Linked DNA regions of Homo sapiens. The protein of the gene in region 1 purifies or fractionates together with the protein of each later gene. This does not show direct contact. Each region holds a gene or a part of one and is shown on either strand. Other genes may lie near its edges. The genes, in order: PRKAR1A, AKAP11, DYRK1A and VAPB.

What was found.
Region 2: the proteins of PRKAR1A (region 1) and AKAP11 purify together in Homo sapiens (affinity purification with mass spectrometry; 5 studies listed by BioGRID and IntAct, with this or other methods). This does not show direct contact.
Region 3: the proteins of PRKAR1A (region 1) and DYRK1A purify together in Homo sapiens (affinity purification with mass spectrometry; 6 studies listed by BioGRID and IntAct, with this or other methods). This does not show direct contact.
Region 4: the proteins of PRKAR1A (region 1) and VAPB purify together in Homo sapiens (affinity purification with mass spectrometry; 4 studies listed by BioGRID and IntAct, with this or other methods). This does not show direct contact.

The regions. Positions count from the first base shown.
Region 1 is NC_000017.11:68,522,059-68,529,818, forward strand, and holds part of PRKAR1A (cAMP-dependent protein kinase type I-alpha regulatory subunit), read left to right. Parts: intron 1-697; coding exon 698-868; intron 869-1,666; coding exon 1,667-1,758; intron 1,759-1,957; coding exon 1,958-2,019; intron 2,020-2,853; coding exon 2,854-2,900; intron 2,901-3,695; coding exon 3,696-3,854; intron 3,855-5,781; coding exon 5,782-5,842; intron 5,843-6,811; coding exon 6,812-6,933; intron 6,934-7,760. UniProt on the Homo sapiens protein: Regulatory subunit of the cAMP-dependent protein kinases involved in cAMP signaling in cells.
Region 2 is NC_000013.11:42,295,392-42,303,151, forward strand, and holds part of AKAP11 (A-kinase anchor protein 11), read left to right. Parts: intron 1-303; coding exon 304-351; intron 352-1,656; coding exon 1,657-1,791; intron 1,792-3,141; coding exon 3,142-3,406; intron 3,407-3,971; coding exon 3,972-7,760. UniProt on the Homo sapiens protein: Binds to type II regulatory subunits of protein kinase A and anchors/targets them.
Region 3 is NC_000021.9:37,361,980-37,370,313, reverse strand, and holds the start of DYRK1A (dual specificity tyrosine-phosphorylation-regulated kinase 1A), read right to left. Parts: upstream 3,542-8,334; 5' UTR 2,686-3,541; intron 1-2,685. UniProt on the Homo sapiens protein: Dual-specificity kinase which possesses both serine/threonine and tyrosine kinase activities. Exhibits a substrate preference for proline at position P+1 and arginine at position P-3.
Region 4 is NC_000020.11:58,433,766-58,441,525, reverse strand, and holds part of VAPB (vesicle-associated membrane protein-associated protein B/C), read right to left. Parts: intron 6,925-7,760; coding exon 6,821-6,924; intron 2,582-6,820; coding exon 2,501-2,581; intron 2,381-2,500; exon of another isoform or gene 2,218-2,380; intron 620-2,217; coding exon 443-619; exon of another isoform or gene 442-442; intron 1-441. UniProt on the Homo sapiens protein: Endoplasmic reticulum (ER)-anchored protein that mediates the formation of contact sites between the ER and endosomes via interaction with FFAT motif-containing proteins such as STARD3 or WDR44.

The DNA.
Region 1 (7,760 bases):
AGAGTGATCCTAGCTCTGCTGGGAGAAGTATTATAGATACGATCTCGTTTAAATTCGTGGTTACCATCACATCATTTCATTATTTGTTTTTATCTGGGATCAAACTGGAATGTGAATTCCACAGGCTCAGGACCCTCTCCTATTTGTTTTTAATTTCCTGTTGCCTAGCATAGGTCTTGGCCTGGCAGATCCAGAAAATGGCTTATTGAGTTAATGAAATAACTCAGTAATCTAGACATTCTTGGATCACTATGTTGGGCTTGAATTGTTTTTCCTGATAACATTTCTTTTGGCAGGAGGGTCTCTTGCTATCTGCAGTAGCATCCAAAAAAACCCAATTTTCAGGATTTTGTCTTGCAGTGTGTTACTGTTGTGTGCATCACAGATAATTGTTGTCAAGACATTAATGAATATCTGATTTGTTACTCACATGTTATGTGAGTACTAATGGCTTGTACTAATGACTTTTGCCCATTAATAAAGGATAGCATCTGTTATCATCTGAGGTACATTCTGTTGAGAGTGTTTCAAGTGTTACTCTCTTTTTTTCCCCTTTGGAATTGGTGTTTTCCTCTTAACTTACATTGTTAATGGAAGAAGAGATTGGAAGTGACTGAGATAGACTATCATTGGAACATGAGAGTGCCAGCTTTACATGCCGAAGGATCTCATTTTGCAAACTCGTAATTTCTTTCAGGAGGAGGCAAAACAGATTCAGAATCTGCAGAAAGCAGGCACTCGTACAGACTCAAGGGAGGATGAGATTTCTCCTCCTCCACCCAACCCAGTGGTTAAAGGTAGGAGGCGACGAGGTGCTATCAGCGCTGAGGTCTACACGGAGGAAGATGCGGCATCCTATGTTAGAAAGGTAGTTTTGATATTTGAATATCGGGGGGATGCTTTTGGGACCCACTTGGTGGTCATCTAGTCTCCTTTGATGAATGAATCATAAAATACAAAACAGGGTGGAACTTCATCCATCCTGTACAATTCTTGGGTACTGGAAAACAGGTTTCTGTAATAGCATGCTGTCAGAGGAAATAACTAATAGTGATTATGAACTAGTGAATAATTGCATTTTGGGGTTTGTTATTTCCTTGCAGTTGTTTTGCAGTAGAAGGAGGTGGGCGGTATTGCTTTTTCTCTTGAATCGTGATGTCCTTTTTTTGCTATCCTATTAAATGTTGTGGCTTTTAACCTTTTATTCTACGAGCCTCATTTGTCCTGTGTTCTCCTCTTCCTCAGAGCCAGGCTATTTTGAGTTATGCTGTTAGCCTTAAAGGGGAACAGAATTGTCCTGGCACTTGAGGCTTGTGAAGCTAACAGATCACAGATTTTTAAAATGACTAATTATTATAAAATACTTAGTTTTGCCTCAGAATAATGACCTTGGTCCAGGTGTTTTGATTTGTTTCTTTAGTTGTTAACTGGGAACCAAGTACCAGACTTTATATTTAGGCCTGGCTGTAGGCAAGGGGATTAATTAGTCAATACTTGTTGAGTAGTTTATGGATCAAAGATAGTACAAGTGTGTTGTAGTGAAACACTACAAAGCAGTCTTGTTTAAATACCATAATGTGGCTTGACATTTAATTGAAGCGCAGGTTGCAAACGTGAAATGTTTTTGGTTTATGGAATTGTCATTTGACCTTCAGTTCTTTTCTAGGTTATACCAAAAGATTACAAGACAATGGCCGCTTTAGCCAAAGCCATTGAAAAGAATGTGCTGTTTTCACATCTTGATGATAATGAGAGAAGGTAGGAACAGGCTCTTTCTTAACACTATTTTTCAAGTAAGGGTGTGATCCCAAATTGTTTTCAACACTTGTTGCAAGTTTTAGAGCTCTTAGTAATTGTTCACCAGATGACAGTCTGGGGTCTTTAATTCTAAGCTTAATGTTTGAAATTCACGGAAGAGACATGTGAAATGTAACACGAGGCCTTCTCTCTTTTGCAGTGATATTTTTGATGCCATGTTTTCGGTCTCCTTTATCGCAGGAGAGACTGTGATTCAGCAAGGTAAGGGCCTCTGGAGCATGCAATATTGTTACGGGAGAGGAGGCGAGACTAGAGGATTTTTTTGGTTTTGTTTTATTGAAGTTTGTTTTCCTCTTTGATCCTACCACTTTTTTTTTTCTGTTATACTATTGGATTTTTCTATTTCTTTTAAATTAAGATTTTCTGAGATGGACAGAACACTTTGTATTGGGAACTAATATTTTTGATACAGTTTTGTTTATAATTTAAAGGAAATGCCTACATTGTCTTACCTTGAATGTCATATAGAATTGCAGAATCATATATATCTCTCATGTTCTTTATATTGTTAATCACTTTTAAAGTAAGAAATAAATGAAACACCTACATTCTTCATTGTATAGCCCTGTCTATTAAAAAGGTTCTAGGACTTCTATAGATTCTTACTTTGCCTATATAGACTAACATGGATCTAACTTTTTGACTATCTTCCTCTTTTTATTTTCTTATTTATTCTTGACATTTTATGAGTGGGTATATATTTTCATTTTGTGGCAGCCTGATAATTTGTTATTAACTATTTGAGTTGTTTCTAATGTCCTTGTTATAAATGCCATAGCAGTTAATAACTACACATATGTAGCTTTTAAAAATTTTTTTCAGAGGTATTCTTCACCATGAGATGACTAAAAAAATTTTGATTAATTCTATGACTTTTAAAATATGTTGCTTGATTTTCTTTCCCCTGAAAGATTGTGTTAGTTTGTAACACACTCTCACAGTACCACTGTAAAATAAGTTTATTGTTTTGTAATAATTTTGATAATTTCTTTCTTTAATTTGGAATATGCTTCTAACTTTTTTACCCTCTTTTAGGTGATGAAGGGGATAACTTCTATGTGATTGATCAAGGAGAGACGGATGTAAGATTTACCAATATCAAAAATATGTTGATCTTAAAAGCCAATGTATTGATCGCTTCCGAGCAATAAGAATAGTGATTTTGAAGGGTCATTACATCCCTTGTATGTCAGATTTTATTAATACCTTTTGCCAAGTATTTTTATGACACAGAGAAACTCTTTAAAGGTAATTTTCTGTTCAGAACTTTGCTGGAGTGGTGGTGAAGAAGTGTGTGTAGCTGGGTGCAGTGGCCGATGCCTATAATCCCAGCACTTTGGGAGATGGAGGCAAGAGGGTTGCTTGAGCCCAGGAGTTCAAGACCAGCCTGGGCAACAAAGTGAAACCTCATCTCTTAAAAAAAAAAAAAAAAAAAGATTCTAGACCCAGCCATTAGCTAGCAAAATTAATATACCTTTCTTATTCACAAATGAAATGGGGACAATAATAGCATTGATCTTTTAGGATTATTAGAAGATTCAGTGACCTAATGCAAGTAAAATGTTTAGCATAGTGCTCAGCACGGTTCTCTAAGTATCTGTGACTGGTATTAGTGCTTAGCTGACCTTTTTCCCTTACATCCTTACAGAGTGCTTTTTTCTTATCAGATAATTAAATCAGGTAAATTATAGACACTCTTAACTCATTTAACTCGTCAGAAATCACCTATTCTTCTCTGTTGTGTACTGCAAACATAATATATTCTGTTTTTTAAAACAAAGTTCAGGATTGTGACCTTTTAAAAAGGTTTGAGGGTTTTTAACATTTAAGTGTTTGTATCTAGAAAATAAACTTTTTTGATGTCACTTGCACTTTAGGTCTATGTTAACAATGAATGGGCAACCAGTGTTGGGGAAGGAGGGAGCTTTGGAGAACTTGCTTTGATTTATGGAACACCGAGAGCAGCCACTGTCAAAGCAAAGACAAATGTGAAATTGTGGGGCATCGACCGAGACAGCTATAGAAGAATCCTCATGGTAAGAGACCATGGTGTTTGAGAGTGTGATTTAGAATTCTCATCTACGTAACTAATGTTTGAATATTACCAAATTAAAAAGAGAATATTTCTTTTAATGAGCAAATATTTCTTTCTTTTAATAAGCGAATATTTTTCTTTTAATGAGCAAATACTTTGCATTAAGCCCAGCTTAGCATTATTCATTATGCCATTTTAGGCAGTGATATTTTAGAACAAAACCTTGGGAAACAAGATCTGGTATATATGTGCTGGTCATCTCATGTTTGGAAATCTATCCATTTGCTGGTAGGCACATCTTAATTTACCTAGTTATACCCATTACAGCATGATAGGTGCTGCTTTTAAGTGCTTAAAGTTATTTGGGGCCATTCAGAAATAATCAGCTTCCCTAACCTGTGAAAGTGGGTTATCAGTAATGTATATGTATGTCATGTCCCCTCTCGTTAAAGGAATAAACAAAATACTAAAACCATTGGAACTTTCTGGTGATAGTCAGATTTTTTGAGAACGTTGTGATAAATTTATAGGATAGCTTTGGATGTTTAAGTCTCAGCCAATGCATTGGTCATTTTTAATGGTTTTCTTAAATTTGTGCAGTGTCCATCTGACCATTTGAAAATGTACAGCCTGATGTACTTTGAAATTTTTCTGCATTTGGGATATATAGATAGATTAGATTAGATAGATAGTCTTGTCCTTCGCAGCAACATAGATAGAGCTGGAGGCCATTTTTCTAAGCAAAATAACACAGGAACAGAAAACCAAACCACATGTTCTCACTTACAGTTGGGAGCTAAGCAATGAGAACACGTGGATACTAGAAGGGGAACAACAAACACTGGGGCCTACTTGAGGGTGGAGGGTGGGAAGAGGGAGAGGATCAGGAAAAATACCTGTGGTGTACTTTACTTATTACCTGGGCAACAAAATTACCTGAACACCAAACCCCTGTGACACCCAGTTTACCTATATAACCTGCACATGTACCCCTGAACCTTAAACCCACACACACAAAAAAACGCTTATGGCAAAGATAAGTCTAAATTTTAGAAAGATTGGTTTTGAAGTGATGTGACAGTCTACTGGAGAAGAAACTGACCATACAGTTAGTTCTGCATTTCCTCTACAGGAATACTATTAGTAAAAGGAAACATAGAATGTTTACAGCTTTATCTCATTGTCAAAGAAGGAAGAGGTAGGACCTGGAACTATTGGTTTGAAATAAAATATTTTACTTTCTCATAGTGGGCCTGAAAGGAAATTAGGGCCTCACAATGCTTTGGCTTTGTGGACAGGAATTAGGAACTGTAGATATGGGGTGAAATATCTATATAGCTGGGTAGGGGAGGATATGGTCCTTTTTTTATAGAATAAAGACATGTCAATTGTATAGGTGAGAAGCCAGAACTAATGGAGGAATCTGCATTTAAATACCAGCGTTGAACAGGAAGAACACTAGGATTATTGGGTTGTAAATGACCTAGATTACTTTTGTGAGAAAATATTTTCAGAGATAAATTGGGTTGGCAGTGGCACAAAATCAGTTTGAGAGTAAACATGGAAATTGGACATTGGTTTAAAGTGTGTGGAAAAATATCTTGAGTGATAGGCTCAGGTATAAACCGGTATTTCGACTGTATTTGGAAGTTGGGAAATGCTTTGTGAAATATGTCAACATACTGGTTGCAAATGCTAGGAATTGGGCATAATATTGGCGGAAAATAAAAATCACAAGAATGTCATATCATTCATTACCTGTAAAATAAAAATGAATTAGTTAAAATTAAACTTTCCTCATTAAAAGCAACAAGCTTTGACTTTCTGGTTTTAAAATTTATTTGAAACTTAATATTTATTATTCCATAGCATTATGTGGTGATAATTACACGTCTTGGGGATATCACTTTTGTTATTTTTATTTTTAGGGAAGCACACTGAGAAAGCGGAAGATGTATGAGGAATTCCTTAGTAAAGTCTCTATTTTAGGTGAGTTGTAAAGTGTGTTAACTTTGCTAGTATGTGAGATACCCCTGAATTAGAATTGGATGGACTTGGGAAAAGCCTTCTGAAAGTATAATTGCTACTCATTCCCCCTGAAAAGACAGAAGGGCTGAAAGTCCTTCTGACTGTGGACATTCACAGTTATTTCCTCTGTGACTTCCCGTCTCTCTTGTTCCATCATTGAGTTGATTGGTTCAGAAAAGTGAGTACTTCCAACAATACATTTCCTCTGTGGAAAGATTAGGTATCATTTGCTGGCATCCTCTGAAAACATGCCAGAAGTTTGTTGAAATTTAGAGTAAAGCAGATTAATTGAAGATATTCTTTTGTGCATTTTGTTATGTGGACTTGGAGATGTTAGAACTTGTTCTTCATGAAAGGGGAATGGGGATTTTTATAAGGTAACAGGCTTCTGCCATTGTTTATTACAGTGAATTTTTCACCTCTTCTTTGTCTTTTCTTTGAATTGGTTACATATGCTTTGTGTTTTGGATAGTAGTTTGGCCTTTGGGAATAAAAGTTATTTTCTAGTTCTTTTTCATAAAGTAAACCAAGAATTTAAATAGATTAAATTATTTCTATGAAACTTTGGAACGATATGGATGGGGAAACTATGACTTTTGAGTATTGTAGTTGTAGGTTTGATTTGCATTGATGGCAATCTTCAGGAATACTTAAGGATTACATTTTCTTATTCCCTTGCCATTTGGTACAGTTGGTATAAATTAACCTAGCCACTGGGCTACCGAAGTAAGGATCTAAGGGCTATCTGCAGGCAGTATGAGAATCCTGCTCAGACTAGAGGTAATTGAAGACAGGTACCACTTTTAATCTGAGACACTACTAGAATGTTGAATGGGCATGGCTATTTGGTTGAATCTCTTTATACTTTCTTTTTACCTTTATAACAGCACCAAATAATACAGAGCAGTTATTTTGATTCTTGTCTTTCAGAGTCTCTGGACAAGTGGGAACGTCTTACGGTAGCTGATGCATTGGAACCAGTGCAGTTTGAAGATGGGCAGAAGATTGTGGTGCAGGGAGAACCAGGGGATGAGTTCTTCATTATTTTAGAGGTAAAGAACTCAGAATTTAATACTTGAATTTTAGAGGTAAAGAACTCAGAATTTAATACTTTAAAAAGTTGTACGCTCTAAGAGGGAAAGAGTGGGCTAATTCTGAACTATAGCTTTAGTTTTTAAGAATACCTGACCATTTTATTTTAAAATTATCTTTTACTTTGAAATGCTGTTGTTTGGTTTTCTGCCAGGTCACTATATTTTTAAATGAGTTTGAGTCAGAATTCTTGAAGGGCCCTAGACATGAAAAGCCAAATTCTAAAAACCATTTAACATAACAAACTGTGATGATTCTGCACTATTCTTGTTAAAATGCAAGTGTTTGGGCTATTTGGCAAATAAGGATTAAAGGTAATTATTTAAATTTGAAAAATTACTGTGTTTGTATATCTCCACATTCCATGGAAATGTATAGCAGATACTCTTGCTAAGCGGATCCAAGTGGCAGATTTCTATGAATGTGGCTCCATAGTTGCTAATTGATTTTATTTAAATCAGGGGTCAGGAGACTGTAAAGGGCCAGGTGGTAAGTAAGTTAAGCTTTGTGGACCATAGGGTTTCATTCGCAAAGTCTCAACTCTTGTCATAGTGCAAAAGCAGCCACAAATAATATGTAAATGAATGTATGTGGTATTTCAGTAAAGTTTGATTTGCGAAAGAGACAGTGAGCTTGGATTTAGCCCTTCATCTACAGTTTGCTAACCCAAGTGTGCACCCTTTAAGCACCTTAGCTTGATACGAAGAACCTCGCTAGCAGGAGATGCTGGTAAAATAGAAATTGAAGCTCATGTGGTGACTAACTTTAAAGTCATTTTTTATCATAT
Region 2 (7,760 bases), on another chromosome or scaffold:
GGATTGTACTAGTGTAGGTGAGAAGGGTGGCTGGGGAATGGAGAGAAGTGGATATATTTGAAATATGTTTTGGGGTTAGAATTGATTGAACTTGCTAGTGAGGGAGAATGGATGAGGTTTAAGAACTGCGTTTTGGAGCCCAATCTTTGGTGAAAAATATTTTTGGGTCATCTTTGAAAAAAATCCTTTTCAAGCAGACAGCATTTTAATGCTTTGTCTGTTTTTTCCTGTTTGTCAGCTCTGTCACCAGCCTGAAAGATTTAAAAATTCAAATTAATGGAGGTTTATTTGTTCTTTACTCAGGTCACATTTCTGGGTTTTAATGAAGAGACAGATGCTGCTCATATACAGGTATGGTGAATTTTAGCATTTTTACTGAGTATTCTTGTCATGGAAATCAGCTTTAGGTTTGACCACAAAAGTCATTTATCTGAGAAGGTTGCAAACCGCAGACTGACTTTTTCTGCATTCTGTGTATAATACAGAATGTATGACTTGTTTGTTTATTTTGATGGCTTTAATAATTTTGACCTTAACAGTAAAAATTCTTATGTTTTTAGTTAAGATTGAGTTAAATTTAAAAGGTAAGATTTGTAAAAATTAACAATTAGCCAATGCAAAAATTTAGCCTGTTTGATTTAGGCAGTTATTGACAGAGGGACTGATGTTTGAGATTGGGATCAGCAAAGGAAAGCTTCACAGTTACATAAACAGTGGTTGAAGTTCCTGTACATATGATAGGCATACTTTTCTTTTTCCCTCGTGCTGCTTCTTAAAAATTTGTGATTCCTACATATTTCCTTTTGTGGCAGTAAAGTGTCTCCTCATAGAGGAGGAAATAACATTTTTAGGTCTTTCTGAATAATGCATATCAGGTGATTATGGGCAAAAACTGCTGTATATTTTGATTGTGGCCTTGCTTGAAGGAAATAATTTGGACAGAAGGAACAAGAGAGGATATATTCTTGAGAACATACATAGCTGGAAAGAGAAGTATTCCAAGATATTTCTTTAATGTTCTTCTTCTCCTTTAAGAGTTACTGATAAAACCATGTTTATAAAGGAAAGTACTCTACAAAGGGTCAAAGACTTTAATAATTCTTTAGCTGGGTAAAATATTTGTGTATAAAGGGCAAACAAGAAGAAGAAATAAAAGCGATTTTCTTTTCCTTTAATCTTCATTAAAATTATCAGTTAAAGTCTAATACAATACCTTGGAGAGGAAAGATAGAAAAACGGATTATATTGTACAGAGTTTTTAAAAAAAAGTTTTTAAGATGTACATTCTCTAGCAAAAAATTTTGTATGAAAAAAATTTCATAAAGTTAAGTTAAGACCTATATGTTGACATTGCTAAAAACTATTAAATGCTTAATTGTCATGGATGTGTTAGGTACCCTGTACAATTTTTTTATAGCTTGATATCAGTACATTTTAAAGGCTACGGGGATAGCCAGTATTTAATAATTTTAGTATATTTTATTTTTGAATTTTTGAAAAATTATCTGTGAATAATAAACTGTATATGTTAACTATTATGAACCAGGAAATTCACTAGCCAGTAGACCTTAAAATTTTTGGATAGGGTCCACATTATAGGAACCTTAACAAAAGTGTTACTCTACAGTGTTACTTATTGTTATTATTTTAAATCAGGATTTAGCTGCAGTTTCTTTGGAACTTCCAGATATTCTGAATTCACTCCACTTCTGCAGTCTAAATGAAAATGAAATTATTTGTATGAAGAATATAAATAAACCATTAGATATAAGCAGTGATCCTCTAAATCAGGTAACTTTTGTAGATAATTTCTAATGAGATTTTTAGGGCAAATTTTACTATATTTGATAAAGATGATTAAACTTTTAAATGCTTGGATGACATTTGTTTTTTTTAAATGGTATCTCAAGGAAATATGATTCATAAGAAATATAACTCATGAAGCATTGACATCCCTGAAGGATATAATAATTTTGGTCATATCTTATAAATTATATTTTTTAACTGTGAAGTTCCGTAGATGGTATGCAAGTACATGTTAATTTTTTCTGAAAATTTATTATTTCTGGATTTCTTGAACTACTTTTACCTTTGTATAAGCTACAGTGACTTTTCCCTATTATGGCCAATTTCAAATTTATATAAATGTTACGCTATATGTTTTAGAGAATGTACTTCAGTTCATTTTCTGGTTTAAAAAAATTCCATGTAAAGTGGACATCTGATGTGTTCTTTATAAATAAAAATGTTACCATTTCTTACAGGTGGTTAGTTTTATAATATTCAGCATTTAGTTCTTTACCAAGTATGATTTTGTTGATAATGCATCAGAGAAAATGCTTTGCATTCTAAGAGATAAGACATATACAATTGAACCAGAAAATTTAAAATTTGGATTATTTTAGTTTTAAAAAAACTGCTATGTTGTTCTTTATAAGGTCTGCCAATAAAACTAGAACTGCTTGCTTCATTTCCTTAATTATGTTCTTTATTCGTATTTGCTTTATTTGCTAGGATATAAGAGGTGATAAGCTATTATATTTGATTTCTAGTTTTTTGAATAAATAATTTCATCAGTATTTACTTGAAAAAAGTAGTATGAGGGGGAAAATCTGGTTACTTGTATTTTTAAAGCTATAAACATTGTAAGTTGTAATGCTAGGGAAATTTAAGTAAAAGGAGTAGACTTTTAACAATTGTGATAGGAAGGAAGATGGCATCATACTTGAAACTACGGGAAAATGGGATTAAAAATAAAAGAAAATAGAACTTGGTTGCTGCCCCCAAACAATTTATAATAGTTAGTGAGATAGGTGAATGATTAAGGAAAATCATAGGGCTGTACAGTAATACAGGAAAACATAATTGCTCAAAGGAATGGATAGTAAGTTTCATAACATTTCAGGAGACTGGGTAGAATTTGAATACCTGGATAAAAGAAGATGGGAGAAAAAAGGACTGGAAAGTGAAAAATGTAGAGAAAGAATTAAGAAGTAAACATTACAAAACCAAGGAGCTTTTCAGGATGCATGAATTTCTTGTTTGTTTTTTTCTCTGAGATTGTCTTATATCTAGGCTTTACTTCATGTTGTTTTGTATTTGAAATTAAAATTGTTTTTATTATCTTTTATCTTTCCCAAGAGTCATCCTTCTGGAATGCTTTGTGTCATGAGAGTGTCACCTACATCACCAAGACTTAGGATTGATTTTATCTTTAGTCTCCTAAGTAAATATGCTACTGGTATAAGGTACACCTTGGACACATTCTTGCATCAGAAGCACCAACTTGAGACCACTGATGAAGATGATGATGATACTAACCAGTCTGTGTCATCCATAGAGGATGACTTTGTCACTGCTTTTGAGCACTTAGAAGAGGAAGAGACTTCAAAGCCATACAATGATGGTTTGTTTTTCATTAGACTTTTTCCTAAAATAGGGAATTAAAATTTTTCAGTTTTGAAAATTTTAAGGCAGGCTTGTTCAGTTGAAATTTATGTTGAGATTTGATTCAATTTAAACCTTTTAACTTTTTTTCTGATTACCTAAGGAAATTCCTTATGATTTTTAAGTTCATTGTAATCTGGTTTTCAGTTTTGCTTATTTCAGGTTTTCATATTTAGTTGGTGCTGTTCACGCACTGGTTACATCATTAAGTGTCTGGAACATTCCTAGGTTCCAATTTTGGAAGAGTTAGCTGGCAGAGTCTCCACGGTAATTTTTCTAACATGCGTGACAGCATGCAAAACATCCCATAGACCAGGTATCCCTAGACATAGAGTAAACTGAAATTATTTTATAAACAGTATATTTACTTTCAAATGTTACTTGGGTGAATCTTTCTGTTAAACATAGTTTAGAAGATACACATAAATATTATATGTTTAAAGTCAGTTTATTCCATGGATTTAAGTTAATTTCCAAAAAGTTTTGTTCAAAAATAATTTCACCATTTCATTCTTTTCCTATAGGAATGAACATTACTGTGCTAAGGAGCCAGTGTGATGCTGCTTCCCAGACGGTTACTGGTCATCATTTAGAAACCCATGATTTAAAGATTCTCATTAGCTCTGGACAGCAGAAGTCATTGGCTAAACCCTCAACTTCCTCAGTGAATGTCCTGGGACATAAAGAACTACCTTCTGTGAAAACTTCAGTCACAACATCAATTTCAGAGCCTTGGACCCAAAGGAGTTTCTATAGGTCATCTAATGCTTCAGATAAAGATAGTGATTTACAGAAAACATTTTTTTCGTCTTCTCCTGCCTACTCATCTGAATCAGAATGTTCAAGTCCAAGTCCTGTTATTTTCTTGGATGAAGAGGGATATCAAAAAAGCTTAAAAGCAAAACTTGAGCTGCCTAAAATTCCTGTGATGAAAGATGATATAGAGGATTCAGACTCAGAAGTAAGTGAATTTTTTGATAGTTTTGATCAGTTTGATGAACTAGAACAAACTTTAGAGACTTGCCTGTTTAACAAAGATCCCGTCATAGGGAAGTCATCGCAGAGGAAAGGGCACAAACATGGAAAGTCATGTATGAATCCTCAAAAATTCAAGTTTGATCGTCCAGCTCTCCCAGCTAATGTTAGAAAGCCAACTCCTCGTAAACCAGAATCTCCATATGGTAACCTGTGTGATGCTCCGGATTCTCCTCGCCCAGTGAAGGCATCAAGGGAAGATAGTGGTTTATTTAGTCCTATTCGATCCTCTGCTTTTAGTCCTCTTGGAGGCTGTACTCCAGCTGAATGTTTTTGCCAAACAGATATTGGTGGAGATAGGATTCATGAAAATCATGATTCTGTTTATTACACCTATGAAGACTATGCAAAAAGCATTTCATGTGAAGTACTAGGCTCAGTTCTTCGTACCCACCATACTAATACCCTATCAAATATTAACAGTATTAAACATGGAGAAAATAAAACTGTAACTTTTAAGCATGGAAACCTTGATCAAAAAAATAAATCTAAAAATAAATCCTTAATGATTAAAGATAGCATTCAAAAATTTGCAGCAGATCTTGTGGAAAAAAGTTTTGGCAGTGCATTTAAAGACTTACAGAAAGGAGTCTCTTCATGTACCAATGCTTTGTACCACTTAGCCATCAAATTGACATCATCTGTTTTGCAGATGGCATTTGATGAGCTGAGAAGGCAGCGTGCATTTTCACTAAAAGAACGTGCCATTAGTGGCCTGGCTAACTTTTTGGTGAGTGAAGCTTTATCAAATGCCTTAAAAGATTTACAGTATGTAAAGAAGCAGATATTCACAAACACAGTTGCTAGGTTTGCTGCAGATCTTGCTGAAGAGCTTGTTTTTGAAGGCATCATGGAGGTGTGTCAGTTTTCATATCCTCAAACGCCTGCATCTCCACAGTGTGGGTCGTTTGACTTTGAAGACAAAGTAGTGAAGTTGTATGCAAAAGATTTGTCTGAATCTGTAATACAGGAAGCATTCATTGAGCTATCACAAGTTGATGTGACCTTTACAACAAAGGCAGCAGTTAGTGTCTCTACGGATAATATCAAGTATGTGAGTGCAGAAAGTGTAGTGCCATCGACACAGGCTGTCACGTTTTCCCCTTCTTTTCACAATCAAGCAATTATGGTGACAAAACCAGTGCAGGAATATAAAAAGGAATACACAGTGCAGCAGGCCTTGTTTTGTACTTCTGGAATTGTTACTTCTATACCGGTGCCCTTGGCAGGAAGTGCCCTTCTCCCATATCATATTTCATCTACTGCATGTCAGGCCAAGGCTCATCTGTCATCTGATGATAGTAATTCAAATGGTGATTCTGCCCAAGTGCATATTGCCACAAAAAACAGAGAAGAAAAAGCAGCTTGTCTCAGAAATATTTGTTTACCTTCAGAACACAATCCAGGTAATCAGAATGATTTTAAACCAACTAATGACGATATTGAAATGCAGAGTTCCTCAAAATTACCAAATGATCCTGCAATTATTAGCAACTTTTCTGCAGCAGTGGTGCATACGATAGTAAATGAAACTTTAGAGTCAATGACATCATTGGAAGTTACAAAAATGGTTGATGAACGTACAGATTATTTAACTAAATCTTTAAAGGAGAAAACCCCTCCATTTTCCCACTGTGATCAGGCAGTGCTGCAATGCAGTGAAGCTAGTAGCAATAAGGACATGTTTGCTGACCGGTTATCTAAATCTATTATTAAACATTCCATAGATAAGAGCAAATCAGTGATCCCAAATATAGATAAAAATGCAGTATACAAGGAAAGCTTGCCTGTTTCTGGAGAAGAATCACAGTTGACACCAGAAAAGTCTCCCAAATTTCCTGACTCTCAGAATCAGTTAACTCACTGCTCACTTTCAGCTGCAAAGGATTGTGTTCCAGAATGTAAAGTTTCTATGGTTCATGGATCCTCCCTAGAGACACTGCCATCTTGTCCAGCTGTGACAGGTCAGAAATCTGACTTGAAGGAATCTGCTAAGGATCAACCACTGAAAAAGCATAACTTGAATAGTACATCACTTGAGGCCTTGTCTTTTGGACAGGAAAACCCCTTTCCTCATTCACATACTTTCTCATCTACAGCACTTACCTGTGTAGATGGTTTGCATGTGGAAGATAAACAGAAAGTCAGAGACAGAAATGTAATACCTGATACTCCTCCATCAACTCCTCTAGTACCATCCCGGGCTAGTTCTGAATGGGATATCAAGAAGTTAACTAAAAAGCTCAAGGGAGAATTAGCCAAAGAGTTTGCACCTGCTACACCACCTTCTACTCCACACAACTCATCTGTTGGTAGTTTGTCTGAGAATGAACAAAATACTATAGAAAAAGAAGAGTTCATGTTGAAACTCATGCGATCTCTTTCTGAAGAAGTTGAGAGTAGTGAAAGTGGAGAGCTCCCAGAAGTGGATGTGAAGTCGGAGCACTCAGGGAAGAAGGTTCAGTTTGCAGAAGCATTAGCTACACACATCCTTTCTCTTGCAACTGAAATGGCAGCTTCCCATTTAGATAACAAAATAATTCAAGAACCCAAGGTTAAAAACCCTTGCTTAAATGTGCAAAGTCAAAGAAGTGTGTCGCCTACTTTTTTAAACCCCTCAGACGAAAATTTGAAAACATTATGCAATTTTGCGGGTGATCTGGCAGCAGAAGTCATTACAGAAGCTGAGAAAATAGCAAAAGTCCGAAATTGTATGCTTTTCAAGCAAAAGAAGAACAGTTGTTATGCTGATGGTGACGAAGATTATAAAGTAGAAGAGAAGTTGGATATAGAGGCTGTAGTGCACCCAAGAGAAGTGGATCCGTTTATTCTTTCATTACCACCAAGTTCTTGTATGTCAGGTCTGATGTATAAGTATCCCAGCTGTGAAAGTGTGACAGATGAATATGCAGGTCACCTTATTCAGATACTAAAACAGGAAGGTGGTAATAGTGAGTTGATAATGGATCAGTATGCCAATAGGCTTGCCTACCGATCTGTTAAATCAGGATTACAGGAAGCAGCTAAGACAACCAAAGTGCAGTGCAACTCAAGAATGTTCCCTGTGCCAAGTTCACAAGTGAAAACAAACAAGGAACTGTTAATGTTTTCAAACAAAGAGCACCACCAAGAAGCAGACAAAAAGAGACAAAGTAAAAGAAATGAAGGTTACTTTTGTAAAAATCAAACTTGTGAAAGGACCCTGGATCCATATAGAAATGAGGTCTCCCAACTGTATAGTTTTTCAACCTCTCTGGTTCACAGCATAACAAAAGATG
Region 3 (8,334 bases), on another chromosome or scaffold:
GCTATTTCTTAAAAAAAAAAAAAAGGTTTTCAAGTGAAAACAAAGATTCAATCCAAATTAACACTTCGTGTAGTTACAAAACAAAATGCATGCCAAAGGTCACTGTATACCATGTTTATAACAAGGTATCTTGAATTTTCCTTTTGCAGATAGTCATAGCCCTCTAAAAACCTAATGTAAATTACCTAAATACATTGTTGCAGTTACCTAGGCCTCTCCACCCCCATATCTTTAAGTCATAAACAGTAACTCTCCATAAGTAACACGAAGGAGCAAACATCAGACAATATTTTGGAGGGGAAAAAAAATTTAACAAATGGTCGTTTTTACTGTCCACATTCCCTAACAAGACATTACACTAATATGGAATGTTTTAAATTATCTTAAATGTTACTGCCTCTAAAAAACTGGACTTATTTTTAGATATCTTGCACACAATAATGTGTTAAGTTTCTAATAGGTTCCACCAAAATATTGTTAAAAGGTTTAAGAGATGATCTTATACTTAGATCTCAAAACAAAGATCTCACTAGGTCATTTAGTCCATTTCCCACCCCTACCAATAATTACCATTCATTCAGGTCTATTCCTTCAAATATTTTTTCAACACCCACCAGGTAAAAAGGAGTGTGCCTTCATGGCGCAAACACAAGGGGTGACCCTTCCTCCTGCAATAATCTCTGAGCTTATGCCTCTCGAGGTAAAAATGAACTTTTTACAAGAGAACTTTTTACTAGTCTTAACAAGAGAACTAGGTGTAGACATTGACAGAAATCCTTAACTTTCTGGCATGGTTTGAAGTATAAATAAATTTGGACAGCTACCATAAACACCACTGCTATACCAGGGAAAATCCTCCAAAGTACTGGGATACCTGAAGTATGCGTAAAAAATCTTGACTATAATCAAGTAAGCTTTTTTCATAACCAGTTTCTTTGAAATGATCTTCTGCAGCTTAAAACCTTAACACATGAAACTTTAGTTCTGGTCTCACATTTTTAAAAGTCTACTTGAAAACAATATTATCCTAAAGTAACTGATCAAGACATGAGAAATTAAACAACACAAAAGCTAAAGGTAATTCCCCTGAGTTATTAAAACACCTCAAAATCAAAATGCTAAATATATTCATTAATACTTTGGACACATAAACTATAAAAGGGTCACAGAGGAACCCTTAAGCATTCAAAGAATAACTAAAAATAACTTTACACAAAACTTTCTTATGACTCATCAATACTCAAAAAATGACTATAATCAAAATTGTTTGAAGTACAAAACACATCAAGGAATATCTTTAATTCCTTTCATTCAAAAATTGACTACATAGTTTTCTTGGGGGGGGAAAGGCCTGAAAAGTTTATTAACAGGCCTCATCACCATTACCTTACCTTTTGGCCTCGGCAAGCCACAAAGGTAATTCCACGCTAAAAACCTTACGGGGACACATCTCTAGGTTAGAACCCTGAGTCATTAAACACGAATCACTCCAAAATTTGCCAGTATTTCTAATAATGAGTTACACCCTAATGATTCACAACTCCAGACTGGCTACAGCCTTCTGGCTCCTGGAGTCCCAGCTGTATGACCTTAGACCAGTCAGTGCCCCTCTCCAGACTCACTCTCCTCATCTATAAAATGGGAACAGTTCCTACCGGCTGGGCAAGCTGGTCGATCCACTGAAAACCCTAAAAACAGAGCCTGGCACTTGTGAAAACAACGTTCTAAGGCGTATTTTCTGACAATTTGGGCGGAATTCAAGAACCAAATGGTGCTAGCATTCCTGCGCTGTGCCCAGATTATGGGATTCGTGTCACCTAGGGTTGGGCGAAAGGCACAGGCAAGTAACCAGAGTCACTGACTCACTAATTTTACCATTTTTAACTATTTCAGATTAGGGAGGAGCCTTTCGCCAAGTACTGAGCTACTCAGCAGCTTTGGTGGCTCCGAAGCGAGAGTGGGTTTGTGCCTATAAATAGACTGGTGAAGTTTTGTGGCGATACACAGGTATCTATTCTAATTCACCTCTCCTCAGCCACCAACTCCCCCGGCTGCCGGGCAGGTCATCCCTCCACCCCGAGCCGCCGGGGACACTCGCGCTCCCCGCCCAACTTCGGAGGCCAGTGAGTGCCCCTCGCTCCAGCGCGGACCCCCAGGGCCGCCGAGGCAGCGGCTCCCGACCTTCGCCGGCGCCCGGCCCGGCCCGGCCCCGCCGTCCTCGCCCACCCGGCAGCCGGCCCCATTTTCTTAACCCGTGCATTGTCCTTGCGAATCACCCCGGCGGTTCCCACACTGGTGGGGACCGAGAGGAGGGACGAGGGAGGAGCTGGGGGAAGAGGATGAGGAGGAAGAGGAGGAGGAGGAGGAGGAAGACAACCTCCACCCCTTCGCTCGGGCGGCCAGTGAAGGTCTGGCGCTGTCTACGGCCCCCCAGGCCCCGGCTCCCGGGAGGCCGCGGCCCCCGCTCCCACCCTCCGCAACTTTCCCTCCGCTCGCGCCCGCCGCTCCTCCGGGACCCGGCCTGAGGCTCCCTCCCCCGGCGGCCGGCCCTGGGCCCGCGGCGCCTCCTCCTAAAATGGCAGGTCCCTCCCTCCGCCCGGCCGGCCTCGGCTCCGGCCCGGCTGCGGGCCGCCGGGGGAGCCGAGCGCCAGGCCGGGCGGGGCCGCGGCCGGGCCGGACACTCACCGGGACGATGGCGGGGCGCTCGCGCCGCTTCCTCCGGTGAGTCTCAGCCTCGGGCTCCCGCGCCGCGCTCCCGCCGCGGCCTCCGCAGCCAGCGCCGCCCCGGCAGCCTCTCTCCGCCCCCGGCGCTCCGGCTCCTGGCCGCGCCGCAGCCTGCTCAGTCTCTCCTCGGCTCGCGGTTCCAGCGGCGCCCGGGGCCGGGGAGGCGACAGCCCCCTCCCCGGCAAATACCGCAGTCCCCGGGCCCCGATTCCAGGCGGCGGGGCCGCACGGCCGGCCCGGCGCAGAGGGCGGCGTCGGCGAGGCCGGGCGCCGAGCGGCGGCTGCTGCCGGCGGCTTCTTCCCGAGGAGGATTTTGTAAATCTCACAAAATGGCGCGCGCTCCGAACCTGCGCAGCGAGAAGCGCCGGGGCCCGGGCGGCGGCGGCGGCTCCTCCGCCAGGAGAGCCCGAACCGCCCGCCCCCGAGTCCCCGCACAGACAGACAGACACTCGCACACACCCGCACACTCGCGCGCACAATCGCCCTCGCACACGCTCCCTCGCACACACACTCGCACTCACACCGGTCCCGCCTGCTCGCCGGCGGCGGCAGCGGCACCAACAGCAGCAGCAGGAACAGCAGCAGCAGAAGCGGCGGCGGCGGCGCCCGCACCCCCCGCTCGGGGTGTCCGCTCTCTGAGGCCGACCTGGGCCGCGATCAGCAGCAGCGACAGCAGCAGTCTCCCCGGATACCCCCGCCGCGGTTGCCGCCGCCACCCCCGCCTCACTCCAATGGGGCTTTTTATTATTATTCGGGCGGGAAGCGAAAGGGTTTAAAAAAAAACCAACCAACAAAATGGCGACGGACCGACCCGGTCGCTATAGCAACTGTCAATCAAAACGCAAAACCCCGGCTGACGTGCTGACGTCCTCCTCCCGCCCCCCAGCCCCGAGCCGGCGGGCGGGGCCTGTTGCTCAGGTAACGGCAGATTCCGTTCCCTCCTTTCCGTCTCCCCCTCTGTCCCCAGCCAACCACCCAACCCCCTCAGGTCACGTGAAGGATAAATTCGGAGCTCGGGTCCGCTACGAGTGTCAGAGGAGGGCGCGTGATTCGCCCGGGGGAGGGGAGAGGAGGGGGACGGCTAGGCCGAGGGAGGGTAGGGGCTGGGGAAGGGGGGGCGAGGCGGCGGCCAGGCCTGTGCGCGATCGCCCGCCGCCTCCCGGCCGCCCCGCCCCGCCCCGCGCCCGCGCCGACTGCGGCCCGGGGAGCGCGCGCGGCCTCCCGCGCCGCCGCCCCCGCAGCCCTAGCGCCCCGCGCTTCCGCGTCGGCGCCCGCAGCCCCGCCCGCGCCGGGGGGAGGGGCGGGCTGCCCCGGGCGGGGGAGGGGGAGGAGGAGGGGCGCCGCGGCCTTCGGGCGGGGACCCGGGAAGCCCACCCCGCGCGCCCGGGCCTGGAGGGCTCTCACCGCGGTCCGGGCGCCGCGCTCGCCTCTCTCCCCGGGAAGCGCGGCGGCCGCGACCGTCCGCGCGTGGAGCCGGTTCTTCGAAGGGCTGGCGGGCCTCCTAGCCGGAAAATGCCGGCGGAGGCCGTGGTGGGGGCGGGGAGGAGCCACCGCCGCGCCCCAGACATCGCAGGAATTCCGGACGCTGCGCCGGGCCCGGCGGCCCTGAGGCTGGCACCTGGCTCCGGTCGGGCCGCCCAGGTTTTGTGGCGCCCGAGACCAGCGTTGGGAAATTAGGCTGGAGCCATCATGAAAACTTTTTCAGGCAGTGCACGCTCGCCTGTGCCTGCCCATCTGCTTCCAACCTCTCCCCACCTTTCGGGGCGCAGCCTGCCTGCTCCATCGGAATGCCCTTTAGATGAATCCCCTTGTGCTGTTACTGTGTCCTTGTCGTCCAGCTCTCTGGTTTTCTTTTCTATACACCTTCTCGGTTTCCAGAGTCTTAATTCGCCTGCTTGTCCTTAACCATCAAAACTCTTTATTAATATCCTGGCTTTCGCTGATTTTTATTCTCCCTACCCCTTCTCCCTAGCTATGTATTGCTGGGTGAGCTCCCGAGGCTTGAAAACCCAAGTATGCTGTGCTGGCTGCGTTGTAATCGGTAGAGAGCCACCAGCTAAAAATTGTATTTTGTACCAACTCTAATGGCATTTAATAAATGTATACCTAAAAAGAGTGTGTGTGTATATATATACTATTTTACAGCAGAGTCACTAATTGATTTCTAAGCTTGATTTTGCCACCTTGTGATAGTGTTCGTAACCAATTTTTTTCATAAATTTCACAAATGTGACAACAGATAAAATCTTATAAACAATATTAGATGTAAAAAACTCGCAGTAAATGCCGCTGTCTATGCTACATGACTCAAATACACCTGCTTTAAATGATTTCCAGCAAAAATGTCCTTGCTACAGTTACTAGGACATTGATATACTAAGGTAACCATTCAGATTAGCACAGACTTTGAAAGAAATCCGACTAAACCGAAAATAAATTAGTCAAAAAGTAATTACTAAGGTAACCATTCAGATTAGCACAGACTTGGAAGAAACCTGACTAAACCGAAAATAAATTGGTCAAAAAGTGGTCGGGCAAATAGCTTGCTTTCAGGCTGATCTCCATGATATAAAAAAGTTGCCGTAGCTGGCAAAAGTTCTTTCGGATTATTGTTTCAAAATTGCCCTGCTAGTGTGATTAAGGTCCACGGTCAACTTAATTGTTTTGAAGAAAGAGGAAGTGGCCCAGAGCGCCCCTTATTCAGAGGAGAGGTCCCTACCTGGTTCCTCCCAAGCTCAAGCTTCCACCTATACAACCAACTTCTTCCTCTCTGCTTGTGGGTCTCCTTCCTGCCCCCACCCCATCCCACCCCATTCACCAAGCTTTCGCTTCTATCAGAGCACATCAGCATTTGCAACCTTTAATACTAAATTAAATTTGACTCAAATTTTTATTCCTGGTAATGGAAGAAACTTGTATAGTTAATCTTCCAGGTAACCTGAACAGAATATGATAATGTCTCAAGATATGTGTCCTTGTCTTCAGTTCAAATCAACCTAGAAGATATCGGAGTGGGGCAGAATCTTGAGATTATAAACATGCGGGTATAGAAGGCATTGCTGGTCTTCGTATCTAGAAGGCTGCACCCCTTTTCTCCCCAGTGTGACAGCCTTAGACAACATTGGTCAATGAATGTCATATCCAGGTTGGAATGCTGTAAAATGGTTTTATACAGGCTTCACCTAAAAACGTAACCTGTGAATTACAGCTGGCTCCAAACAAGTGACCACATGTAGGCCGGAAGGACTCTGGTATAGATGCCAGCTGACCTGGTTCACAGATGAAATCCTTGTCATCTAAGAATCTTCCCATTAGATTCACTTACAGATGTGTTTATTCATAGACTGTTCACCTTGAAAAGCAAAGGCCCTCAGCTCATAGGTAGTAACAGCCTCCACTTACCCAGCATGTTCTAGAGTATCTCTAATCCTCACAGCAACATTACATCCCCATTATGTGGATGAGAAAACAAGTCCTGAGTGATTACATGACTTTCTCAAGGCAGTCACCACTCACCAGTAAGTGGTGAAGCCAGGATTCAAACACAGGTATAATTGCAAAGCCCATGTTCTTTCTACCACACCAAGATGATTCAAGATTATATGGAGTTAGAGTCTTCACAGAGGTAATCGAGTTGGGTCTCTAGATTGAACCCTAATCCAAAATGACTGCTGCCCTTATAAAAAGGAGAAATTTGGACCAAGACAAACGAACACAGGGAAGAACGTACAGACACCAGGAGAAGGTGGCCATCTACAAACCAAGGCACACCTGAGGCTACCAGAAGCTGACAAAGAAGCATGGAACAGATTTTGTCTTACGGCCATCAGAGGGAACCAACCCTGCCAACATCTTGATTTTGGACTTCTGGCCTCCAGAAATTCAAGACAGTACATTTCTGTTGTTTAAGCCACCTAGTTGTTTGTACTTTGTAGTGGCACTAAGGGAAACTAACACACAGATGCGTGCCAAGATGGTGGTTTCTTTTGGTTGGCTTCATATCCGTTAGTGACCACTCCTGGTGAGGCACTATTCTAAGCCTGAAAGTCCAGTAGTTGGAATCTCGCTGAGAGTTATAACCCAAATAAATATTCCAAGGACAAACAAGCAAACCAGTATTCCTATCAATGCTCCTCACGCCAAGCGAGAAGGTGAACAATTTGCATTTGGTCCCTAGACAGTGGCATGGCGTGGCATCTGACACCCCTACTGTTCTTACAGACTTCTGGGTAAAAGTCTTCACTTGCTGCCCTTGTACAAACTTTATTGTTCGTTCGTTCTTTCTTTTTTTTTTTTTTTGAGACAGAGTCTCGCTCTGTCACCCAGGCTGGAGTGCAGGGGTGTGATCTCGGCTCACTGCAACCTCCACCTCCCCAGTTCAAGCGATTCTCCTGCCTCAACCTCCTGAGTATCTGGGATTACAGGTGCCCGCCACCACACCTGGCAAATTTTTGTATTTTTAGTAGAGAAAAGGTTTCACCACATTGGCCAGGCTGACCTCGAACCCCTGGCCTCAATTGATCTGCCCACCTCGACCTCCCAAAGTGCTGGGATTACAGGTGAGAGCCACTGCACCCGGCCTTGTTTATTCTTATTTTTAAGGTAATTCGTTATCTAAAACAGATTACAAAGAAACAAAATTAATTAAAACAAGAAAAAGGCCTTCTATAAACTGACAATGGTAGTATGCTATGAAATAAGAAGTTAATTCTTTTTTTTTTCCTTTTTTTTTTTTTTGAGATAGGGTCTCACTCCGTTGCCCAGGCTGGAGTGCAGTGGCAAGATTACAGTTCACAGCAGCTTCCACCTCCCAGGCTCAAGCAATCCTCCCCACCTCAGTCTCCTGGGTAGCCGAGACTACAAGCGCATGCCACCACGCCTGGGTAACTTTTTGTATTTTTTGTAGAGATGAGGTTTTTCTGTGTCAACCAGGCTGGTTTCAAATTCCTAGACTCAAGCCATCCTGCCTCCTCAGCCTCCCAAAGTGCTGGGGTAACAGGTGTGAGCCACCACGCCTGGCCGAGGAGTTAATTCTTAATTCTTTGTACCTAAGGTCCAAAAACAAAATGTAACAGTCATGCATGGTCATTACAGACGATTTTACAATATGGAAAACAATGAAGAGGGAATGATTACTCGTAGATATCACCCAGGAAAAAAAAAAAAAAAACCTTATTGGTATTTTCATATTAGCATATGTCCTTCCAGATTTTCTTAGGGAGACATGAGTACATTCACCCACATACAACACTGCAGATATGTTTCATGCCGTTTTTACTTACAATTATACTATGAGCACATTTTAGTGTTAATCAACTGAAATTTAGATAATCATTTTAACAGCTACTAGTATTCCATCAGTTGAATAGGCCATAATTTGTTTACCTGCTCCTCTATTTTTTAAGGAAGTTTTTCCTTTTTGTTGTTGTTGTTACTACAGATAAAGTTGTATAAACATGTCCTACATCCATTTTACACACCTGTCCAATTATCTCCTTCAGATAAAAGTATGCGTCCTTAAAAAGCTTTTGATTCATGTTACCAAAATATTCCTCAGAAGTGATTCCACCAATATGCACTCCCTAAAAGTAATGTGTGACAATGGCTTTT
Region 4 (7,760 bases), on another chromosome or scaffold:
GAATTACAGGCACCTGCCACCACACCCAACTAATTTTTTGTATTTTTTATTAGAGACGGGGTTTCACTTTGTTGGCCAGGCTGGTCTTGAACGCTTGACCTTGTGATCGGCCCGCCTTGGCCTCCCAAAGTGCTGGGATTACAGGCGTGAGCCACCGCACCCGGCCAAGTTTTTTGTTTTTGTTTTTTTTTTTAAGGGGACAAGAGCTTCAACAGTTGAGAAATTTCTGATCAAGGGACAGTGGTTCTTAATTTAGGCAGATCCAAGGACCCTTTTGAGACTCTCATGAAAGCCATGGAAATTTCTCCCTGGGGAGAAAAAAATAGCCAAATACCAAAAGCAAAAAGAAATCTATATATTCACTGGCTCATCAACTTCCCCACCCAAGAAGCTAGTGAAAACGCCCTTGTTTTCTGTAGATTACCAGAAAATAAACTATTACCTTGAACTGCTTGTTCTCCTCCCGTAGCCTCTGAACTTCACCTTGCAGCCTCTTACATTCTTCCATAACCTTCTTAACTTCGGTGTCATCCAAAGAAGAACTCAGAGACTTAGACACTATTGGTGTTTCTGTCTTTGATGCAGTTGTGGATATAATTTTATTTATTTCTACATCATGCTGTTCAAAAACAAATGAAAGCCTAAGTGTCACCGACCATGTAATAATGGACTTTTTTATGCAAAGTAAAGTAGTTCTCAGCAAACACCAAACGTGGTAGCATTTCATCCACACTGTAAAATGTCACATTTATTTTAAAAATGGATTACTTTATCTGATATCTTAATAATCTAAAGCAACAGGGCCCTAGAAATTATGGATAAGGGCAAATAATGAAGTTCGGCTGAGACTAATACTTCAAAGAAAGAGAAAAAGGGCTGTGTATATTGCACTATCAAATTCCTGCCACGGAAAAATCAGCATACTGTAATTGTGCAAGCTCAGGAATTATTAGCCACAAATTACTGTCACCACAAAGATGTGAACATCCCTAGGATTGCCTTAGTGGGGTTAGGAGGCTTGGGAGAGCATTAGACAGAGGGCGAATTACTTTACCAACTTAGCATTTGGAAGCTGGGATGAAGGTGAAACAAACTCAGTGTCTGCAATGTTTCAATCTTGGGAAGTTACATACTCCCCTTATTTCCCCTGCCAAGATTCAGCTATGATCCCCTCTTGAGATTTACAGGGGATGAGAGCCAGTCAGTGGAGGGAGGGCATGGAAGCACGCAGCTTGTCAGGGAAAGAGTAACTGACGATCATTGGCCTGGAATCTAGCTCTACCCATCATTTTCCAGATGAGAAGAGTAGGCCCTGTGAAGCAAGGCCCCAGGCTACCAAGTCAACCTATCACAGAGCTGAGGCCAGAATACTGCTTTCACAGCTTCCAAACTGACCTTCCTGTGACAGGATGTACACTGGGAAGAGGGAAAAAATGACCACTATCCACTTAAAGAAACAGGGTAATGATAGTGGTAAATGATTCAGCAGAAATAAAATCTCAGGTAGTTTTGACACAAATCAACAGCACTCGCGCAGACCAACATAGATACTGTTAACACAACATTTCAGGGTACTTCTGTTTCCCAACTCCAGCTATTAATGGCTAGGATAGTTTCACATGCTGCATGCTTTCACAGTTTTGGTGTTTTTATAAAAATTAAAATGTTTTCGACTAGGTTGAAGGGAAGTCCAAATTAGCATTTCAGATACAGTCTCCTTTCTTCAACTGGTCACAAGTGAGGATCATGAAAGGTAAAGCGCTCACAGTGGACAGCCTAGAGGATGGGGCTCCTTCCTTCTCCCCACAGGCAACACCGGAATGGGATCACTCTCAATGGGGGTTGATATTGCCCTCCAGGACACATGTGGCAATATCTGGAGACATTTTTAGTTGTCACAACTGGGAAGTACTACCAGTATCAAGAGGGCAGAAGCCAGGGATGCTGCTATTAATAAAACACCCTACAGTACACAGGGCAACCTCCACCACCACCAAGGATTTGCCCCAAATATCAACAGTGTTGAGGCTGAGAAATCCTCATCTAAAAGCAGCCTTTGATTGAAGAGGTAGATAGGGTAAAAGGGGTAGGGAGGCTGACAGGGCACTTTGTAAAACAAGAGAACTTGAAAGCTTCCCACACGTCCATCAACCACCATGATAAAGGGCAAATTGTTCCCTCTTTCACTCTCACCCACTGTTTAACAGCAACCTATACCTTTGCCAGGCCACAGAAGCTCTTCAGGATTTATGACATCTCAATGGCCATCGGGCTGCACTTTTCAAGGGGAAACACTGTCAATCAGTTGTCTTTCCGTGAGTTTTTCAAAGGCTGATTTCATAAAGGCCCACTTATTTGCTGACTTCAGCTTATTTTTTTTCTTCAGACATCAGATAAAGGAAAATAATTTGCCAACTTAAATCTTGGTTTTGCAGGAAATGGTATGCAAATAAGTATCAGCTTACAACATTCAATTATTGTTAACTATAAATATACTTACTGGTTTATCATTCTCTGCTGGCAATTCAAACACACATCTAAGTTTTGAATCCATAAGGTCTTCCGGTTTTGCCTCCTTCCACTAAAACAATTTAAATTTAATAATCAAGATATTATAAACCTGCTGGAAGAATAACTTTCTTCCTATAACTGACAATTTCAGAAAAATACTCTTAATGAGAAAGCCCTGATGTATATCAAATAAAGAACTGAAGTCTGCTGAGATTTCAATATTTGTAACATGACAAGATTAAATACACTCACTTTCTCAAAATATTACACTTCATAAACCCTGAAGTCTTGCTGCCTGACTCCTCAAAGTCAACCAATGCTCCCCATGTTGCTACTCTGTGGGACAGGCCCACCACTGAACAAAAAGGAATCCTCTAAACAATGTCTGGATGACCAGGTAACCTTGGCTCTCCTTATGAAAATAAAACTTGTTTTCAGCTGGGCATGGTGGCTTATGCCTGTAATCCCAGCACTTTGGGAGGCTGAGGTGGAGGGACTGGTTGAGCCCAGCAGTTTGAGACCAGTCTGCACAACGTAAGGAGACGTCATCTCTACAAAAAAATTAAAAAATTAGCTAAGCATGGAGGCACATGCCTGTGGTCCCAGCTACTCAGGAGGCTGAGGAGGGAGGATCACTTGGGCCCAGGAGGTGGAGGCTGCAGTGAGCCATGATCATGCCACTGTACTCCAGGCTGGGGGACACTGAGAGACTCTGTCTCAAAAATAATAAATTAAATTAAAATGAGAAAATGAAACTTATTTTAAAGGCATATCTAGAAAGTATAAGCGCATACTATCTGGGACTAGTTTCAGAACCACTCTGCCAACTACCAACGGAACACATTCATTACCAAATCCCTCCTCTGTCACTGTGGCAGTGTGTGGGCTGTGTCTACCCCAAGACCCATCTCCATCCCTCCAGGCTGTAGTGAGAGCACCTTCCTAGCTAAATCCCATGTCCTAAGAGGATACGCTCCTGATTACTTCTCCTTTTGGCAGCAGAAGATGGGAATTCCAGGGTATTCTAGGATTACAGACCAGGATAGCAGCAAGGTTATGATATAGAAAAAGAAGGCACCCCCACCCTCCATGCCCTCAACCCTTCCCAAAACCATGCAAGAGGCAGCTACTGTAACACAGGTACCAAGAACCAAAAGTGGGAAGCAATCTATACATCTGACCCTAGGGGACTGCCACAAAAATTATGGCAGATCCACTAAACGGAACAGCATGCTGCCACTCAAATGATGCTGAAGAGCACTCAGTTAGATGGAGAAAATGTCCAGAATGTTAAGTGAAAAAATCGCAAAGAATACTGAAGTCTGCTCCTCTGCACACACACACCTGTACACGTGTGCCTACCACATAAGTCAAAAAAAATATCAAGCAAGGATCATCACTGAATGCTAAAAGCACCAGGTGAAAGACTGCTGGCGAGCAGGATATTCACATGGTCTCAAAGTATCAGATGACTCAGAGTATCACAGATTACCTATTAACCACAGGGGCAAATGTGCTTTGTGCTATGACAGTGGAGAGAGCTGGCAGTCACCATCTTAACCAAGTGATCAAACAGCATCACCAACAGCGGAACAACCTGGTATGAAATACCAACTATGGAATATTCTTGCCAAAACACATTTAACTTGAATTTAATCATGAGGAAATAATCAAATAAATCCAGAATACAGGACATTCTGTAAGTCAACTGGCCTGGACTCTTAAAAAAAAAAAGAAGTTCAAAGTTTGGGCAGGGTGCAGTGGCTCACACCTGTAATCCCAGCACTTCGAGAGGCAGAGGCAGGAGGATCACTTGAGCCCAGAAGTTCAAGACCAGCCTGGGCAACATAGTGAGACCCCAACTCTATAAAAAAATAAAAAAATAGCCGGCATGGTGGCATGCCTGTAGTTTTAGTTACTCGAACAGCTGAGGTGGAGGTCAAGCCATGACTGCACCACTGCACTTCAGCCTTGGTGACAAAGCAAGACTTTGTCTCAAAAAAAAAAAAAAAAAAAAAAAAAGTTCAAAGTTTGAAAAACAAAAAGGTTTGGGTGTCCTCTACTAAAGGTCACTTTTGGAACAACTAGGAAATAATGAATATGAATTTATCACATAATAATACTGAATTGAAGTTACTTTTTTCAGCTATGATTAATAGTATCATGACTATATAAGAGACTGTCCTTGCTCTGAAGCATTTAGGGGTGAAGTGTCATAAATTTGCATCTCAAGCAAATAAGAAAGTTTGTGACAGAAAGGAAGCAAATGTCACAACATGTTAACAAATGTAAATCTAGGTAAAAGTTATATGAGTGGTCACCATGCTATTTTTTCAACTTTCTGTATATCACAATAAAAAGAAAAACATTTTAAAATAAAGAAAAAGCAGGCTGGGGCAGTGGCTCATGCCTGTAATCCTACCACTTTGGGAGGCTGAGGTGGGCAGATCGCTTGAGTCCAGGAGTTTGAGACCAGCTTGGGCAACATGGAGAAAACCTGTCTCTACAAAAAAATTAGCCAGGCATGGTGGTGCGCTCCTGTGGTCCCAGCTACTTGGGAGGCTGAGGTGGGAGGATCACTTGAGCCCAGGAGGTGGAGGCTGCAGCGAGCTGAGATCACTCCACTGCATTCCAGCCTAGGTGACACAGTAAAATCATGTCTCCAAAAAAAAAAAAAAAAAAAAAAAGGAAGAAAAACACAAAGCTCTCATTTCTCATTAATGATGGTTAGGCCTAGTAGAAAAGAACTATGGGTCACTTTAAATTTTTTTCATTTGTGTATTTCCAAAATTTCCCACAATGTACATTTTATATAAAAAAAATTTAAACTTATATCATCATACAAGGAACTAAAATGACCCTTTACTAGATATGCAGTGACTGGCCTATTACACACTCTGATAAGCAAGTGTCAGACACTGGACCCACCAGGCACTTACACAGGCACACTTCATACTCACCACTGTGTGAGCTGCATTTTTATCCCTATTTTACAAATGATCAAAACCTCAACAGAGTTAATAAAACCTGCTCCCAGCCACAACGTCAGTAAAAGGAAGAACTCAGCTCGAAAACACCCAAGCCCATGCTCTTTTCACTATGCCATGCAGCAGAAGCCAAACAGAACACACCCTTGGATCTTCCATTATTTTCTATCTGCCATGTTTCTTTGATCACACAAATTAACATGAAGTAACACATCATGTTGCAGAAAATCAGAGAAAGTTTTCATAAGAATTGTTCTTATGAAAAGAAGACAGCCTATTATCACTGATCTCTCTAAAAGTCAAAAATATCTGGCCTCCTCCTTCATTTTCTGCCTACAAGTGAAACATCAGCGGAGATGCTTCTCCAGAACTTAAACAAAAGGCTATGTGGTGACATAGGGCATGGGGTGGTCTTGGCCTGAGTTGCCCTTGGTATGAAACTCAGACAGAGGAGAACTGCAGTATGGTGTGATGAACAGCGGACTCAGGTGGGCAGACCTGCCGTGGATGACTCGGGGCTCCCCTTTGGGCGGGCCAAAACTGGAGAGCAATGCAAGTGGTATGAGGCAACCCTGTCCTGCTTTCCTGAACTGTAAGGACAAGCGCATCTGTCCCTGCTGGGGCTGTGGGTTGTATTGTAGATTTCAATTCAACTCCCAGCCCCAGAATGCCAATGGACTTATTCAAATGTATAAAAAGCTCGTTTTGGAGGGAATGTCCATTATACTCTTTTTTTTTTTTCCAAAACCATCACTAACATCACTTATTTCTTTTATAAAAATGAAGTCATCTTAATTTTATCAAAATTAGAGAAAAGTTAAACATAGATTTAAGCAGGGGGGAAAATAAATAAGCATATTTACTAGAACAAAGCCACAAACATGTATGTCTAAATGGGTGAGGACATTCAGCACTGACACTCTCACATGGCTCTTGAGTTTGTGGGGGATGAGAAGACAAGTAAGAAAAAGGCGGGACAATGAAAAGTATCCTTTTCTGTCGGGGCAGAAAGGAGAGGCGAAAGAAGGCAATCCCTAACCATGCAAGACACCATCCACCAGTGCAAGGAGCTGCTGAAGCACACTGAGCTCAGGAAAGTCAGAAAAGAACAGCCTTCTAGAAAGTCACAAAAAATGTTAAAATTATTCCTCAAAGTTTTAGAAAAACCATAAAGGTAGATAAAGTACAAACCTCCTTGAAAAAAAACTATTCCCTTTTAAATAATTTTGACATATTTTGAAATGCATGCACCCACAATTCCATATCTAATTGGTTTTTTAAATTATTGTTACTGAAAAAAATAAGAAGCATTCAGTACTTACTACTGCTTCCATATCTGAAGTGTCAGTTGGAGCAAACATAGACTGAACCATAAACTTGTGTTTACTTTTCTCATTGGGATCATAATCGAAAGGCTGTAACATCACTGAGAAAGAAAATATTTCATTAGGAGGGTCAGAGCTTGGTTGTCAGTGCCATTTATTATGCTAATACTTGTACTTTGGTTGTAAAGCAATTTACCGGCATTCTCTTATGTCTTAGGATGGACGCCCCTGGTGAAGTAAGCAAGGATGACCAACATCTCCATTTTGCAGGTCACCAACCTAAGAGCCACAAAATCACGCATGACAGAGCTGGGAATAAGGCCGAGGACCCAGTCTTCTGATTCCTAGTCCATGGATCTTTCACTACTGCAAGCCTACCGTAAATGTCTGCTACAGGCCTTACAGAATTGGGAAACTGGGTAGCAACACCATCTGCCTGTTTTGCTCAAGAAAACATATCCAAATGATCTCTTCAGGAATTAAATAGAATAATCTAAGATGTTTAAGAACATTTAAGGAACTGTTGTAGCTTCTCTCCAACCCATTTCTCATATAGCTAATCAAGGTAATCCTTGAAATACAATTTTGCCAACATAAAGCTAGAAAATTTTTACAATCAGGACACTCACACAGCAGGGAAAACGGTATCAGCTTATACTCCCCCTTTTTTTTCCCTAAGAACCTAGAGAAATCTCACACAGAGGATCCTGTGGATGAGTCACACCCACTGCATGGAGGGAGGTGCCTTCCTACCCCAAGTGGCTCCCTTCAGCCTACTTCCTAGAGTACAGCTGGGCCTACTCCTATCAAATGATGGCTGCTTTAAAATATGTTACTTTGCTACAAGGCTTTGGCTAACCCACACATCTAGTTAAGTTCCCTGAGACAACTTCACATGCAGGGAAAGCCTACTGTGGCCTTGACCACAACAGTGGGC